Regions from separate parts of the Homo sapiens genome. Here region 1 is linked to region 2. The links come from fine-mapping of genetic effects on gene expression. A gene starts in region 2. The other region holds a variant in brackets. All regions are shown on one strand. Distances are from middle to middle.

The links. PIP is the estimated chance that this variant, and not a neighbour inherited with it, causes the effect. A credible set is the group of variants that fine-mapping cannot tell apart.
Region 1: its variant is the best candidate, but not a certain one, in a credible set for the expression of RELA-DT in whole blood (INTERVAL, PIP 0.57).

The regions. Positions count from the first base shown.
Region 1 is chr11:65,632,392-65,635,395 of GRCh38, reverse strand. It overlaps PCNX3 (pecanex 3), which reads right to left. Exons shown (of 35, transcript NM_032223.4): 28 at 1,040-1,270; 29 at 755-858; 30 at 276-423; 31 at 1-178. Among named protein-coding and RNA genes, the nearest start is that of MIR4690, 2.4 kb to the left of the region's middle. The variant G/A (reference allele first, on the strand shown) is at 1,448.
Region 2 is chr11:65,661,406-65,664,116 of GRCh38, reverse strand. It overlaps RELA-DT (RELA divergent transcript), which reads right to left and starts at 1,111. Exons shown (of 4, transcript NR_183625.1): 1 at 969-1,111. It overlaps RELA (RELA proto-oncogene, NF-kB subunit), which reads left to right and starts at 1,201. Exons shown (of 11, transcript NM_021975.4): 1 at 1,201-1,291; 2 at 1,912-1,938; 3 at 2,029-2,180; 4 at 2,282-2,430. The coding sequence starts at 1,285. RefSeq lists an enhancer at 695-894 and silencers at 985-1,394, 1,455-1,514.

The sequences.
Region 1 (3,004 bases), 29 kb after region 2:
CGTCGGAGGCATCATCCAGGACATGGCGCAGCGCCAGCAGGGAGGGCGTGTTGCTGAGGATGGCGCTGCGCCATGCTGGGTCACCCTCATGTGAGATGACCAGCCGCTCCTCGTTGGCCGCAATGGCATCGTATAGGGCTGCTGGCTCCTCATATTCATCTGGGGACGTGAAGTGGTCCTGGTAGAGAAGACGGGAACAGGGGTCAGTGGCCCCTGCCCTGGAGAGAGGCTTCATCCCCCACCTGCCCATGCTGCTGGGCACACCCCTCCCCAACCTGGTGAAGCTTGAGGGCCATGCGAACCCCAGGCGCCACAACGCGGTGAAGCAGGTCCATGTCGGCAAAGACCCACTCGTCACGTGGGGAGGTGATGCGAAAATCCCCCTTGAACAGGGCGTGCAGGCCGTAGAGGAAGGGCTCCAGGCTAAGTGGGAGGAAAAACAGGGAGGGGAGAGAGGGGTGTCGAGGACCCAGGGGTAAGGCTTCAGAGTGATCCAAGCAGAGGCCTTTCCTCACGCTGAGCCTCAGTTTCCCCATCTTGACAAAGAGGCCAATCTCTGCCCATGTCTCTCACAGAGCACTGAGGAGCAGGCAAGGTCATGACCAGGAAGTGCCCTGCCCGTGGGAGAAGAGGTACCCCAACAGGAAGGGCCACTGCAGTTTCTGTGGCCACTGTGGCCAGAGACCACAGTGCTCTTCGTGGAAGAGGTGGGGTGGGGACGGCAGTAGGCCCCGCGGGACACCCGAGCACTCACCTTGCAGACATGCTGTGAGAGGCTGTCCCCAGGGCCCGGCGGCCCAGCACACACAGGCCAAAACACAGCGTGACCAGCGGGGAGTTCCAATCCTGGTCCACGGGCTGTGGCATAAGGACCCCCATCCCAGAGCCCAGCTCAGACCTGGGACAGGGACCTTGGAGTGGGGGCTGGGGCTCAGGCTAAGGGAGGCTCAGAGTGAGAGGAAACCAAATGGGGAGAAGGGGAGCAGGGAAGCCCAGGTCCCACAGCCCCAGGTGGCAGCCTCAGGTAGTGGAGCCTGACCTGGCTGCGCCGGGAGGCGCAGTACTGGATCCACTCGAGGTGCACAGCACAAAAGGAGGGCAGCGAGAGGCCAGACAGGCGGAGGTCATAGTCCTCATCCACACTCAGCGAGAAGGTGGGATCCGAGTCGGCATAGCCGGGCACCCGCACAGGCCTCAGGGCTGCCGTGATGCCCTCATGGCTGAGCCACACCTCCAGCTTTGGTGAGCGGCTCACGTAGTAGATGATGCTCTGGGAGAGGAGGGGCAGGCGTCAGGCCGGGGTCCCGGCCCTGGCCACTGGAGGAGAAAGCATGGAGGTTCAGAGGCTCCTCCCCAAGACTGAGCTGAAGTCCGCTTTCTGGGATGCCCCGCTCCTAGAGCCATCTCAGCTCTCAAGAGCAACCAAGCAAGTTGGCTCCTTCCCCTA[G/A]ACCAGGGAGGAGTGACAAAGCCGCCAGGAAGCACCCACTTACAGAGCAGGAAGTCCTGTGCTGGGGCTAGCACTCACAAGCAGCATCTGCCTGCCTCTGCCCTAGAATATGCCCCGTTTGTATGAGAAATTGAGGCTCAAACAAATGGCAGCCCCCAACGAGAACAAGATCATCACACTCAACATTTACCACCTCAGCTTCCAAGTCATCAAGGTGGAGCTGGCCCCACCTGCCCTGAACCCTGTCCCCCACCCGCCTCTGGCTGGCCCCGACACTATGGTGTGGCCCTCAGGTGAACCTTCAGTGCCTGTGCAGCACGTGGGCCAGGTAGCAGCAGGAGCTGGTGTTCCTGCACAAACATAACCCCGAGCGCGGGAGCATCCAGATGTCACATGGGCAGGGGGCGGGGAGCGAGTGGGGCAGAACAGACTGAACTGCCGCCTGAACCCCGGACCTTCCCCATCATGACATTGTGGGATCCAGATCTCGGGGCCGGAAGGGCAGGCTGAAGTAGTGGGCCTGCCTCAGAGTGCCTGGGTCACAGGTCCCTTTAGGCAGCTGAAGCATGACAGCCATCAGGCCTCGCCTCAGAAAAAAGCCACGGGCACATGTGGTACCCAAAGCTGGGGGCTCCTGGACCTCTTGTTAAAAGGCCCTGTTGGGCAAAAGTACAGGAGCTTTGGAAGACAGGTAGCTGGCATGGCCAGGATGCACGGGCGGGTTAAGGCCGGCAGGGCAGCCAGTGAGGTGATGGGGATTCCATGTGCCACCCTAAGATGGAGCTAATGGGGCAGGCCCTTTGCCAGGGCAGACCCGCTCCAGACTGACTTTCTTGCCCATAGCTCGCCTCTACAATCCAGGCACCACCAGAGCTGCTAAAAAGACCCAGAAAAGAAAAGCTTCAGCCAGACAGGGTGGCTCACACCTGTAATCCCAGAACTTCGGGAGGTGGAGGTGGGAGGATCGCTTGAACCCAGGAGTTCAAGACCAGCCTGGACAACATGGCGAAACCCCATCTCTACAAAAAATACAAAAATTAGCCAGGCATGGTGGTGCATGCCTGTAGTCCCAGCTACCTGGGAGGCTGAGGTAGGAGGATTACTTGAACCTGGGAGGTGGACACTGCAGTGAACCCAGATGGCACCACTGCACTCCAGCCTGGGTGACAGAATGAGACCTTGTTTCAAAAAAAAATAAAAAAAAGAAAAGCTTCAGGGACCGGGAGAGGAGCTGGCCTGGCACATATCAGGTGCTTGGTTAACCTTCACCAGTGCCATCCTTTTCTCTGACACAACACTCACGGTCATCTTAGGAAGAAAATGAAGACGGGGGGCAATACCAGCAGCCGCTCCGCCTGTGAGCGCTCACTGCGAGCTGGGCTCTGCCCAAGGTACTTCCCGGGAAGCACTGCCCAGACTCCGTGCAGCCTCAAGCCACGGTGCCTTTTCCTGCTCTTGTAGCCCTTCCCAGCTGCAGAAGCAGGTCTGAGAGCCCAGTAACTCCCACGGGAAGGGCAAAGCTAACGGGAGGGGCTCCGCCTCGACTGGCCAACCTCG
Region 2 (2,711 bases):
CTAATCAGGGCCAGCCACTGGAGAAACTGAAATGAGTGGGCGGGGTGCTAACTCTATTTTCACTTTTCTCTTCCTGTTTCTTCAGAGCCTGGGAAACAAGTCAGAATTTCCAATCTTTTCCAATTCCCACATGATTTCCTAATTTAAGACGAATTCAGAGAAAATAAAAAAGTCTTTCTCCATCTGGAGAAGACTCCGCCCCCTGCAGTGGAGCATCCTCCTTTGGGGATGAGGCCTGGGGTGGGGGTGCGTCAGCCCCAGCCTCCACACGGACGCGCCTTGGGCTTGGTCTTGGGGGAGCTACCTGCACTGTGGGGTCACATGACAGAATTAGTGGTCAGCCCTAGCTGGAGGTCCAGGGCAAACACAGGCGGGGGCAGGGGGGTGGGGGGTCGTGAGCCTGCTGATTCAAGTGTCCCTGTGGGTCCCGCACCTTCTGAGACACAAGCGCCAGGCTTCAGAGACGAGGCTCCGGGATTTACCCCTGGGGGCCTCCTGCTCCCACAGCCGATGAGAGCCGGCAGTTTGGCTGTATCGTAAGCTGGCGCTTTAGCTGGAGAGGGACGAGCCCTCGGCCAGCTCGCCAGCGGGAGGGCCTCAGTCGTCCCATCCGGGCTGTAGGCTCCGCAAAGCTCTTGATGCACTGTCAGGCTGGGAGGTCCGGCCGCTCCCATTCCCCCACAGCCGCATCTAGATTGGGGTGGGTAGGACATTTTAACGTGCTTCTGAGACAGCCACCACCGAAAGGCACCTTTAGCGGTTAGGAAACCCGCGCGGAGTTCAACCACCCGGCCTCTGCGGAGCAGAAGGCCCGGTCGGGCTTTTCCCTGCGCGGGGCGGGCGGCCGCAGCCCAGTAGCCCTGGCTTTGCTCCAGACCCGGCCCAGAGTGACATCACCAAACTCCGCCGATCGGCGGGAGGGGGCCCTGAAATCCCCTAAAAACAAAGTGAGTAATCGGCGGACCCACCCTCCAGGCGGGGCCGGGACCCGGGAGCTAGCCGAGCCACCGGGCACGCCAGCCTCTTCGTCCTCGGCGAGGCGCGCACTTGGCCCCGACCCCCGGCAGCGGCTGTGCGTGCAGCCTCTTCGTCCTCCGCGCGGCGTGCACTTGCTCCCGGCCCCTGCGCCGGGCGGCGGCGGGGCAGCGCGCAGGCGCGGCCGGATTCCGGGCAGTGACGCGACGGCGGGCCGCGCGGCGCATTTCCGCCTCTGGCGAATGGCTCGTCTGTAGTGCACGCCGCGGGCCCAGCTGCGACCCCGGCCCCGCCCCCGGGACCCCGGCCATGGACGGTGAGGTCGCCCTCTGACCCCGCGGGGTGGCATCGCCGGGGCCGCCGCGGCTGTGGCGGGAGCCCCCGCGCCGCTTTCCGCCCCTTCCTGCGCCGACGGGCGCTGCGCAGGGAGCGGTCGGCCTGCCGGATGGTGGCGCGGGGCGGGGCAGGCGGGGAGGGGTCTGACTCAGTTTCCCCTCTGGGTGGAGGGGGTGGCCCTTGACTCAGCATCCTCCCTGGGTGGGGGAGCAGAGGGAACCTTGACTCAGTTTCCCTCCACACCGTCCATGGGGGCAGCTCTGGCTTCGTTTCCCTATTAGGGGAGAACGCATCTGATTCAGTTTCCTCTCTGGAGGGAGGTGGGGCGTGCCCTCCCTCAATTTTCCTTAAGAAAGTACAACAGGCCCTGATTCAGCTTCCCTCTGGAGAAGAAGGATTCCTTACCCCGTTTTCCCTCAAGAAGCAGGTGTTTCTGGTTCCTTTCCTCCACCCCTTAGTTTCACCGCAGGTTCTAGGGAGCAGGTCCTGACTCAGTTCCCCTGGGAGGGAGCCTGGCTTCTCCTCTCCGTGGAGAGCAGATTCCTCCTTGTGAGAATGGGCATTGGGTGTGTGCTGACCCTGATCTCCCTCCCCTTTCAGAACTGTTCCCCCTCATCTTCCCGGCAGGTAAGTGGCCCCCGCGGCGGTCGGGGAGGTGCTCCCTGGGGTAGGGCAGTGGGGGCAGCCGCCTAATGGGGCTGCGGTGTCCCCTGGCAGAGCCAGCCCAGGCCTCTGGCCCCTATGTGGAGATCATTGAGCAGCCCAAGCAGCGGGGCATGCGCTTCCGCTACAAGTGCGAGGGGCGCTCCGCGGGCAGCATCCCAGGCGAGAGGAGCACAGATACCACCAAGACCCACCCCACCATCAAGGTCAGCACTGCGCCAGGGTGTGCGGGGAAGGGACTGTGGAACCCCAGCCCTCTGTGTTTGGGAGTCAGGTTTGGATGTCTGGGCCTCTGTACTTTGGACAGATCAATGGCTACACAGGACCAGGGACAGTGCGCATCTCCCTGGTCACCAAGGACCCTCCTCACCGGCCTCACCCCCACGAGCTTGTAGGAAAGGACTGCCGGGATGGCTTCTATGAGGCTGAGCTCTGCCCGGACCGCTGCATCCACAGGTGAGGTCCCTGCAGGCTAGGAGGCCCAGCATGAGGGGACAGGAGGCGGGCTATGAAGTAGCCGCTACAGTGTTACTCCTTTCTGGACCCAGGGCAGAATTCCTCACTCCTTGCCCTGACTCAGCTCTGCAAGTAAACTGCCTTTGTCTTGAAATTATCTATTTGTACGTTTACTCTAGCAGATGAGTTCCAGGGGATACGGATGGGTCCCTAATCACTTCTGAATTCCTGACCCCTGTAGCTGGAAGGACAAGTCCCTCAGAGTCACGTCTCTTGTTTGA